Linked DNA regions of Homo sapiens: region 2 is linked to region 1. Evidence: fine-mapped expression QTL. A gene starts in region 1. The other region holds a variant in brackets. All regions are shown on one strand. Distances are from middle to middle.

Region 1 (5,364 bases):
GTGATGTGGCACCAGACGGAAGGGCCTTCGGCCTCACCCCTGTGTGCCTTTCCCTGGAGGGTTGGGCAGAAGGTGAGCACCGTTTCTGTAGCAGGGGATGGCAGCCCACACTCTCAGTGACCACAGGGACCTCTAGGGTCATGCAGGTTCTCTCCTTCACCTCCCCCCATACATACAAGAACTCCTGGATCCCCACCCTTGAGTCCTTTTGGGTTCTTGGGGATAGAGGCCCAGCAAGGATGTAGTGACTTTTTGTCCTTGAGTCTGACATTAGGGTATCCCTTCCCCTCCCAGCCCCAATTTCCTGGAACCCCCACACCCCCATGACTCAAGTGGGGGACACAAAAGAGCAGGAAGCTGCCTTCCAGTGCCTCCACCCCCACCCTGTCATTCAGTGACGCACGCTTCCCGGGGCCGCAGGTCAGCAGAGAGACTAGGGCTGAGGCAGGGTCAGCCGGCCAGGGAAGAGCTTGATGCCCTGGTGGGAGCATGGGGGACTAGGGAAACTACAGTTCCCAGAATGCAGGTGGGGTACACCAGCACTCTCCAGGCACTTCAGGCCAGAGTGCATGCTGGGGTTTGTAGTTCTGTGCCATCTGAGGGGCTGGAGAAAGGCCACTAGCTGGGCATCTGGTCCACAGGGGTCGAAGCCTCGTGATTTCGAGACCTCAGAGACTGAGAGAAAGTTTAAGAAAGAAACGGAAGCTGAGAGACTGGGAGAGGCAGAGACTAGGAGCAGCAGACAGACAGACAAACAAACAAGAGGATTTGTGTTGGCCAGACTCCTCTGAAAAGCAGTGGAGGATAAGGTTGGGGTGGGCCTGGGTGGGGGGCCGGCAGGCGGAAGGAACGGGCTGTGCTCAGAGCTCTGGGGTCACACCAAGAAGGTGGGGTCTGCCAGTTTTGGAGGATGGAGGGTGAAGGGGCCTCATAAGCTGCTCCTGGACACTAGTGTGCCCTGCTGCCCCTGTCTCAGGAGGAGGGAGATGGAAGGGCGGCATTCAGCCTGGGCTTTGTCCCATGACCCCAAGCCTGAGGCCCCACCACACCCCACCACCTCGCCTTCCCAGTGAGGCAGGGGATGGGATCCAGCCCCTACTTTTCAGGCATCTTCTACCATGCTGGAGGAGACAACAGATCCCAAGTCTGGCTTCCATATTAAGCCACCATTTGAAATGTGCATGACCAAGGATGACTCATTTTCCTAGGTCCCAGTTAATGGAGCTGTGACTGGCATCCTCAGGGTCAAGGTGACAGGCAGCATCAGATGCTGACATCCTTCTGTCTTTTTTTTTTTTTTAGACAGAGTCTTGCTCTGTCACCCAGGCTGGAGTGCAGTGGTGTGATCTTGGTTCATTGCAACCTCTGCCTCCCGGAGTGATTCTCATGCCTCAGCCTCCCGAGGACGACAGGCACCCACCACCACGCCTGGCTAATTTTTTTTTTTTTTTGAGACAGAGTCTCGCTTTTGTTGTCCAGGCTGGAATGCAATGGTGCTATCTCAGCTCACTGTAACCTCCGCCTCCTGGGTTCAAGCGATTCTCCTGACCCAGCCTCCTGAGTAGCTGAGATTACAGGTACCCACCACCACGCCCGGCTAATTTTTATAATTTTATTAGAGACAGGGTTTCACCATGTTGACCAGGCTGGTCTCGAACTCCTGACCTCAGGTGATCCACCTGCCTCGACCTCCCAATGGGCTGGGATTCCAGGTGTGAGCCACCATGGATGGCCATTGTCTTCTTGCCTGCACCACTGGCTGTGGCCCGTCCCTGTGGCCACCTGACCCCTCCCAGGCCTTCCAGTCCCATCTGGGCTCCACACTCTGCTAGATTCTTCTGGAAAGCAGGGCTTACCTTACGCTTTGGCACTACCCAAAACCCTCAGCCAAGAACAAAGCCACTCCAGCACATTGGCCTGGCCCTCATTTTCCTTGGTGCACTGCTTGAATCCTCTGTTCTAGACAAATGGGCTTTCTCGTGTCTCCCTAATGGTCCTGTGCTTCCCTGCCCCTGGGCCGCTGCTGTGCTGTTCCCTCCACCTCTCCCTTCCGCCTCTGACAAATGAAAATCTTTTTCTTCCTTGAGGCCCAGCCTGGGCAGCTCTGGAGGTGCACCACCCAGGCCTCCCTCTTAGAGAGCAGGTACCTGCTGCAGAAGGTGCTGGTGGCTGACAGCTTCCAGATGCCAGCCTTCAGTCCAAGGCCATGTGCTTCCCTGGAGTCTTGTGTAGGATATAATAAATTCCTCTTCTAAGGTTTTAGCCTGTAAATTAAGTACAATGAGTTCTGAGATCCTCTCCAAAGATCCAATGCATCAGTATGTTCAGCTTTGTTCTTCATCTTAAAGTTTAACTTTCATGTTCTCTTCGTCTCCTTGCCCCTAGTTTCAGTAAACAACCCCCTCCTAGCTTCTATCACCTGCTCCGAACTGAGTCACCACTGGTCACCTGCTCTGACCTGAGTCATCCTGAGTCACCTGTTCTGTGACCGTCCTTCCTGCCAAACTACTTACCCTGCCAATCCGGCTCTTACCCCTGCTCTCTTTAAAATAGCCAGTAACAATTAGCTCAGACGGTGTGGTCCAACCCTAGCCAATAGGGGAACAACACAGCTGTAGGGGCTACCTGCCTTAGGGATAAAAACCCCTTCCCTTCCCTTGTTCAGGTGTGCTCTTGCCATTGCTCCATCTGTGAGATGCACCCTTCTATAGAAGTAAAATTGCCTTGCTGGGAACATTTATATCTGAGTGCTATTTCTTTTGTGGCACCGAAAATTTATTTCTAACACTTAGACAGTAACTGAGCCCCGGGGCGTCTGTGGGCGTAACATCCCCCGCTGGGCTGATGTGAGGCCCTTCTTCTTCTTCCCTCCTCTGCAGGTGTGAGCCTGGCATTGTGGGCCTGATCCTTCCCCTGCCCAACTCACTCCTGCTCCCGGTCCCTGTTATCTTTCTCAGGCATTGCCCGCAGTATTCCTCTTATGCTTCCAACTCCTGGGACTCTGCTTCCTGAAGGACCCAACCAACACAGTCGCAGGATGACTCCTCTGTGAGGTCTTCCTTACGTCCCCTTCTCCATGATCTCTGGGTGGCTGTCACCCTGTCCCCAAGGCCCCGGGGACAGCTCTTTCTCTGGGCCCTCCTGGTCGTGGTTTTTGGGCAGCTTGCTCTGTAAGTGTGGGTTCTCACTTAAATGAACCTGTGTGCTCTGAACCTGTGTGCTCTGGAAGACACAGGTCAGTTCCTCTCTGTGGGGATCCTCTGCTGGGTTGAGCTCCTGCACTGAGTGGGATTGCTTCATACATTGGCTTGTTTTGTTGCAAATGTGTGCAGCCGCCTGGGGACTGGAAGCTGTGCTCTGGAGGCAATGGAGAGGGTCCACTGAGAAGGGAATTGGCTGAGGCTAGATGGGTCTGTGTGGGCAGAAAGAAGTCAGTCTAGGTGAAGGGGAGGAGTGCAAGAAGGAGCACTCTGTGGCCACAGGGAGGATGGGTTACAGTTCAGTACAGCCAGCACTGAAGGCTGAGGGTCACAGGGAGGATGGGGTCCAGTTCAGTACAGTCAGCGCTGAAAGCTGAGGGTCAGAGTAGGCCTGGATTGGGTTTGAATTGGGGCAGAGGATGCCATGGCAGGGTCTTAAGAAAAGGAGGAAAAAAAAAAGTTAAACAGACAGAAAAAGTCAGAGATGAATGCTCTCTGGACAGGGGATTCCCTGCTTCCCCTTTCTTGGGCCGTGGCCAGTGTTGTCCGGAGTGTCCTGCCTTCCATCAGGGTGCTCTGATGAGAACAGTTGATTCCCCCGCCTGTCGGAGGAGGCCTGCCGTCCCCAGGGCTCTGCCTGGTGCTGGCCTGCTCTATGCCTGCAGCCCTGCCAAGAATGATGCCCATGCATCTTAGTGGCTGACTGCTCATATTGGTAACCATGTTTTAAAGAGGACTTTCCGAAAAAACAGTTTTCAAGGTTGGAGATTTGGTGTTCGGCTGAAAGAATTTCCATCTTCAATCATGAGATCTGAAGCTGAATGGGCTTTGGAGATGATCTGGTTGGGAACTGAGCCCCCTTGTCCCTGACAGTGGCTGTGTTTCCGCCTCGGGGAGGGCTGGCCCAGACCCCAGGGGTAAGGTGACAGCCTTCTGTGGGTGAGTAGGGATCCCTCCCTGGGGAGGGCTGTGCCCTGTGCCCCCTGCCCCCTCCATAATGCCAAAGAGGCGGCAAATCTTGCCCCTGCCTTCCCTCTCAGACCAGAGTGCTCTGCAGGGCTGGGCGGGGGACGCCTTGACCTTGGAGGGCTGTGCTGGGAAGGGAAGGCCTTGGGCCTGGGGTGTGTGCATGGGGGCCTGGGTGGTGAGGGCAGGGGTGACTGAGCGGAAGTCCCTGACTCTTTATAGCCCAGCCCGGGGCTGTTCAGTGTGAGCTGGAAGTACCCCACCCTTGCACTATGAGCAGCTTCCTTCCTGCCTGCTGGCAAGGACGGGTGGGGAGCGGGGAAAGGAGGGAAGGGAGGCGGGAGCAGCGGGAGAGGGGCGGGGAGCAGCTGCCGCCAGGCCTCCCCCTCCCGAGGATGTAACTCATGCTGAGTGCTGGGGGGCGGAGAGATTTGCTCAGCTTCCAGATTGCAGAATTGGTGCTGAGCCTTTGGTGAGGGCGTTGGGGCGGCTTCTGGGATGCTGAGGGTTCCGGGCTGTGGACGCGGTTGCCGGTCTGAAGGGGCTCCTGTGTTGATCCTGGGCGCCCCCTGGTAGCCCCAGCCCTTCTTGAGACAGCCACATGAGGGCAGCAGAGAGCCGAGGAGGAGCGATTTCAGCACAATCGTGGGATCAGACACCACGAAGGGAGGGGGAGACCCAGGGGATAGGAAAGGAGCCAACGGCATCGGGTGGTAGGTCTACACCAGCCATCTGGGGTCCCAAGGTGGCTCATTTGGGCCCACCCCCAGAGGAGCAGATTGGGACAAATCTGCGCCTCCCTGCTTCCTGCACAGACCACATGGGGTGTGTCAAACCGAAGGCTCAGGAGGTATCTTCACATACACACGTACACGCACACACATACATCCATGCATGCATGCACACTTTCTTACACATATATCCATGCATGCATGCACACACATACACATATATACATGCATGCATGCACAGTCACACACACATACATCCATGCATACTCTCTTACACACACAAATGTTTCGGGGAACGTTTGATTTCCCCACAAATTCATAAGTTGAGATCCTAGCCCCCAAGGTGATGGTGTTAGGAGGCGGGGTGTTTGGGAGGTGTTGAGATCGTGAGGGAGGAACCTTCCTGAATAGGATGCGTGCCCTTAAGAAAAAAACCCCAGAGAGATCCCTCACCTTTCCATCATGTG
Region 2 (5,364 bases), 48 kb before region 1:
AGAAAGAAAAGGCACCTGAGGACTAAGGGGGCAGGGCCCAGGGGAGGACGGGCAGTGGGAGCCAAGGGCTGCCCATGTGGCCCCGCACCTGGCTGATGAAGCCGACAACCTGGCCCCGGAGCCAGGAGGGGTCAAGGGTGCGCAGGTCCCGCCCATCCAGCATCACCACGCCTGCCGTGGGGTCGTAGAAGCGCTCCAGCAGGGAAGCCACGGTGGTCTTTCCTGGGGAATTGGGTTGAGAGGGAGGGAGGCCAGGGATTCTAGGGATTGTCCCAGGAAAGAAGGCCCCTTGTGGCAGTGGAGGAAGGGACCCCACCGGGGGCTCACTGCTCCCGGCCTTGCTCTGAGTGGCTGCTAGAGAAGAGTCAGAGGGTGAAGAGGTGGTGGGCTCCCCTTACCTCCGCCAGACTGGCCCACGAGGGCCACGATCTTGCCAGGGGGCAGCGTCAGGGTGAAGTCTTTCAGCACCTCGAAGCCGGGGCGGCAGGGGTAGCTGGGAGGAGCCGAGAGACCCCCAGTCAGACCAGGCTCCCAGCCCTTGTTGCCCGGGTCCCTCCTGAAGTCTCCCTGTAGCCCTCTGAGAGGGCCTGTTTATGGGGGACATTAGTCCAGACCTCCACCCCCGAATCCACTCGCCTCATCCCCGGCCCAGGGACCCATCCCCACGCCTGCTCACCCGTGCTGACCTGAAGCAGACGTTCTGAAATGTAACGGAGCCACGCAGCTGCTCTTTGGGGACGCAGCAGCCCCCAGACAGTGGGATGCAGGGGTTCAGGGCCATGTACTCAAAGACCCGGGCACCTGCACTCAGCCCCCGGACCACCTGTGGGAGGGGATCCAAAGTCCGCAGGGAGGCAGGAGTAGGGGTGACAACAGCATCTCCAGGGAGTGGCCATGGCTCTGGGCTGGGGTCTCCCCAGCTCCTCTGCCCGCCCACACCCAGTCAATAGGCAGCTCCCACAGCGGCACACACGGCACAAACTCCACACCCCAGGCCCTCCACCCTACCGGCCACTCACCTGCCCAAACAGGACAGAGAGGTTGGCCATGGACCTGTCAGAAAAAGGAGAGAGGGGTGGAATAGATGGGAACAAGAAGAGCCAGAGGAGGGGAAGGAAGCCACGGTGGGGCGGGGGAGCAAGGAAGCAGGTGGCCTGTGGCCAAATGCAGAGACTGCTCCTGCACCATGGGGGCGTAGAGCCCTGGGACGTAGCAACACCAGATCGCTGAGCCCTGGCTCCCTCCTTGGCCAGATGAGGATGACAGCTGTCCCTCAGCTCAGCCCAAGCCCCTGGGAGGGGGTGCTCCACGAGGAAATGGAAGTGAAGGCACAGGCCTCTGTGGGTGTCCTCCAGTGCCCTGGCCTGTGGTCTGCAGGGTGAGGCCTGTGCACACATGCAGCGGTGATATCAGCCCACGAGGAAGGGAGCCCAGCTGACCCACGGACTCCCTGCTCGGCCCTGAGGATGCGGAGGCCGCCACCATGAACAGAGATCAAGGGTGCGTGGCTTAGAAGGGGAGAGCAGATCTAATGCTGCAGACTCTTGGGGAAGCAATGACTTTGGCAGACATTTAGGTGGAAGAAGTGATGTTAAATCTTTTTGGAGAAAGAAGAAAACAGAAGACACTGGGCCACAGGGGAACTCTCAGGAGACCCCAAAACAAAATTCCCTGAAAAAAATTTTTCTCATGAGCTTGCCCTGCAGATAAGTATACCCACAGTGTTATCTGTCTAGACAGTGGGTGGCCTCCTTCGTCCCGGCAGGGCCGGGGTAGGGCTGGCCGGCTGCCAGGAGGCTGAGGAGGAAGGTGAGTCACTGGTCCCTGACTGGCCTGGCTGACCTGTGACAGTGTGTGTATGCCTGGTCCCCTCCTAAGTAAGAGGAAAGACTGACTCCCCAGCAACCCTTCAGCTGCAGACTCACTTCTTCCAGCACTAGGGTGGGGGTGAGTGGGAGGAGCCTCGAAACCCAAAAGGAAAAGGTCCCAGTGGACTCAGTGCAGTCAGCACTTGCTAAAGGCAGC[C/T]GGGGGAGGCACCAGGCAGGAAGGAGCCAGCCCAGCCAGCTATCTGTTGATGAGCAGGGGCACATTCTCCACCAGAGATCTGGAAGACATTAGGGCCTGGCAAAGGGGCTGGGCAGCAACTGAAATTCAAAATGCACATGACTCATTGGAGTGTGATGACCCTGCTCTCAGGGGCCGTGGGCTGTAGGCTACGGGCCTGTTCCCAGGTGGAGCCTGGCCCTGATTCTGATGAGGCGGCTGGGCCCCACTTGCTGTCTGTCTGGGCACCTCCCCATCTCCATCAGGAGTACTCAGGATGGGCTCATAGGTTAGGCTGCCTGAGGTAGGCCGGGCCATCCTGCTCCCCTCTCTCTGCTAGACCCCAGTGCCAATGCATGGGCCCTTGGCTTAGCTGGCAGGACCCTGTGGGAAACACATCAGCTGCTTTATGCAACAAATCCAAACCCCCAAGATGAGTGGGGAAGAATCTCCACATAGGCAGCGCTAGAAGGACCTCCAAGAGGATGGGTCTAGGGCCTGTGGCTGTGGGAGCAGCCAGCGAAACAGCACAGACAAGCCCCTGGGGGTTCTTGTGTGTGTCATAAAGCTGCTGGATGGCCAAGCAGTACGGTGGGAGGTAAAGTCAGAGTCTCAGGCCCTAAAGGGGAAGTGGGGGTCCCGAAGCGGGAGGGTTGGGGCTGGACAGTGCAGCCACCCTCCCCACAGGGAGACTGTCCCACCACTGCCCACCACAGAGGGCTAAGGGGTGATTTTATTAAGGGAGCCACTGGGCTTCTTTTTTTTTTTTTGAGACGGAGTCTTGCTGTTGCCAGGCTGGGGTGCAGTGGCGCAATCTCAGGTCACTGCAACCTCTGCCTACCAGGTTCAAGCGATTCTCTTGCCTCAGCCTCCCGAGTAGCTGGGACTACCACCATGCCCAGCTAATTTTTGTATTTTTAGTAGAGACGGGGTTTCACCATGTTGGCCAGGATGGTCTCGATCTCTTAACTTCACGATCCACCCACCTCGGCCTCCCAAAGTGCTGGGATTACAGGTGTGCGCCACCGCACCCAGCCGCCACTGGGCTTCTTATGGGCCCTCAGGACTAAAACGACCGTCCCATTCAGAGAGGCCAAAACTCTGGTCAAGGGAAGTGGGTCAGCGCTGAGCAGGGCAGGCAGTGGTGGAGGCAGCCCCCCAAGACCCCATCTCTATCACAGTGAGAGCATCTGAACTCCAAAGCCACGACAGAACAGCTCCCAGCCCCCCAAGACCCCATCTCTATCACAGTGAGAGCATCTGAATTCCAAAGCCACGACAGAACAGCTCCTTGGGCTGGAGGAGGGCGAGGCTGCCAAGGAGGCCTGAGCCCGGGACCAGAAAGGGTCTGAAGGTGCTCAGATTAGGGAGCACGAGCAGAAACGGGGCACGCGAGGGTGTCCATGCAGCTGCGGAAATGGGAGGAACGTCTCTGTGGAATGTCAGGTTTGGGGCTGAAAATGGGAGCCTGTCTCCGTCCGCCTCCCGCTTCCTGGGACAGTACACCCTGCAGTGAGGGGTTCTGATCCGGCGGACACACACGCAGGGGTGCACCATGCAGCAGGGCGAGGACACATGCCTCAGTAGAATGGGGTGGGGGCCCCGGTGGAAGAGCAGGGGGGTCGTGGGGGGAGGGATGGGGTGGCAGAGGTGATGCACGGTTCGTGGAGACGGGTCTTCACCCTTTGATGATCTGTTACAGCATATTTACTATCTCATTATTTACCATAACATATTTATGTAGAACTGCTTGTGTTTAGCTTGGAAAGAGATAGGAGGGGGGAGGCCCGCCTTGAGCTGTCTGGTGATCAGCTCTGGTCATCCCAGAGGCTCAGCTGAGCGGGTGGTTTTGGACCAACGCAAAGCAATAAGCTATAAGGGTGGGGTGTGTGGGGACAGGGGTCAGCTTGTCATCCCTGGAAGTGGCAGGCATGGGGAAGGGCAGCTCACACAGCCTGTCAAGGATGGTCCTTCCATGCATGGAATGTCACAGCCTGCAGCGGAAGGGAATTCGGACAGGGTGCAACACGGAGGAAGCTGAGGACACAATGTGGAGTGACAAAACGCAGTCACAAAAGGACATAGTCTGACTCCACTTAGAGGACGTCCCTAGAGTTGTCAAATCATAAGGACAGAAAGTGGAATGGTGGGTGCCAGGGGCTGGGGGAGGGCAAATGGGGATTCCCATGTCATGGGGATAGTTTCCGCTCTGCCAGGTAAGAGTTCTGGAGGCGGACGGTGACAACAGCCGCACAGCAATGTGAGTGCACCCACTGCCCATGAGCTGCACACTTCAAAATGGTTAAAATGCTGTATTTTATGTTTTGTGTACTTTACCACAGTTGAAACAAATTTTTAAAAAGCCTGTCAAGGAAACTTCTGGGTCCTTTGGAAGGCTGAAGATGACAAGCACCTGCCTGCTGCAGCGCCACTGCCCCAGCCAGGAGGGTTGTTATGGGCCCTGAGGGGCTCTCTCTCCCCACCCTATGCATCCCTGGGGAAGCTGGGCAGGCCTGGAGCTGCACAGCAGTCGGCCCCCAGAGAAGGCTGGCACCCGTGTCCCCTAACCCAGCAGGGCTCTGGAGGGCGGCAGGGGGCTCTGTAGCAATGGGAACGGCCCCCACTTACCTTTGCACTGTCTGGGAGGCCACCAGGAAGGACATGAGGTCTCCCCCTGTCAGCTGCTGTCCGGCCACAAGGGAGCCCCCAATAAATAGGGTACCCAAGACCATGCCTGCAGGAGAGGGGAAGTGAGGGAGGACGAAGCCAGGGCAGAGGAAACAGCCCTGGGCCTGCTCTGCCACTGCTGACTGGGAGAGTCAGGTGAGGCGCATGACTGGTCCCAGCGTTGGCTTCCTCCTCGGAAGAGCAAGTTGGGGTGGGCACGCCTCCATGGCCTCCTTGAGGGTGGCCCTGTAGCGTTCCACATGGAGTCCCATAGCTGGGTTGGGACATCGGCACCCTCCCTTTACCTGCAAGAGTTAGCAGCTGGCCCGAGGCGAATGCAGGCAGCCAGCAGATGAAGGGAGGGCCTTTGCCTGCCTTGGCTGCTCCCAGCTCCTCCCCAGCCCACAAGCGCCCCTCCAGCCCCCAAATGGCTCACTCACAGTTGAAGGCGATGTTGGAAAGCCCTTGGAACAAGGCGATGCCGCGGCCCAGCTCCTCTGCCCGGCAGCGGCAGGCTTCCAGCTCTGCCCCATAGCGCCTGGTGAGAGAGACCAGTGCATTCAGGAGGCAGCTGGGCTGGCACGAAGGGTTGGCAGGGTGTGGGGGGCATCTCTGCTTTGTGCTCCGCCCTCCCAGGACTCACTCCTCTTCCCG

Alleles and levels. Positions count from the first base shown, and alleles are read on the strand shown. Sizes are in standard deviations (SD) of each study's normalised expression.
With allele C in place of T in region 2, the expression in esophagus mucosa of the gene that starts at base 2,431 in region 1 is lower (small effect, 0.21 SD a copy in GTEx).

Evidence for each region. PIP is the estimated chance that this variant, and not a neighbour inherited with it, causes the effect.
Region 2: its variant is the best candidate, but not a certain one, in a credible set for the expression of NOS3 in esophagus mucosa (GTEx, PIP 0.63).

The regions. Positions count from the first base shown.
Region 1 is chr7:150,988,084-150,993,447 of GRCh38, reverse strand. NOS3 (nitric oxide synthase 3) reads right to left here and starts at 2,431. Exons shown (of 27, transcript NM_000603.5): 1 at 2,148-2,431. RefSeq lists cis regulatory regions at 176-182, 1,189-1,209, a silencer at 442-472, promoters at 1-702, 1-1,269, 2,211-3,079 and enhancers at 4,350-4,509, 5,016-5,056.
Region 2 is chr7:151,035,957-151,041,320 of GRCh38, reverse strand. ABCB8 (ATP binding cassette subfamily B member 8) reads right to left here. Exons shown (of 16, transcript NM_007188.5): 7 at 5,354-5,364; 8 at 5,151-5,248; 9 at 4,672-4,777; 10 at 1,020-1,053; 11 at 687-823; 12 at 399-493; 13 at 89-222. Among named protein-coding and RNA genes, the nearest start is that of ASIC3, 9.9 kb to the left of the region's middle. RefSeq lists enhancers at 625-1,408, 1,409-2,193. The variant C/T (reference allele first, on the strand shown) is at 2,026.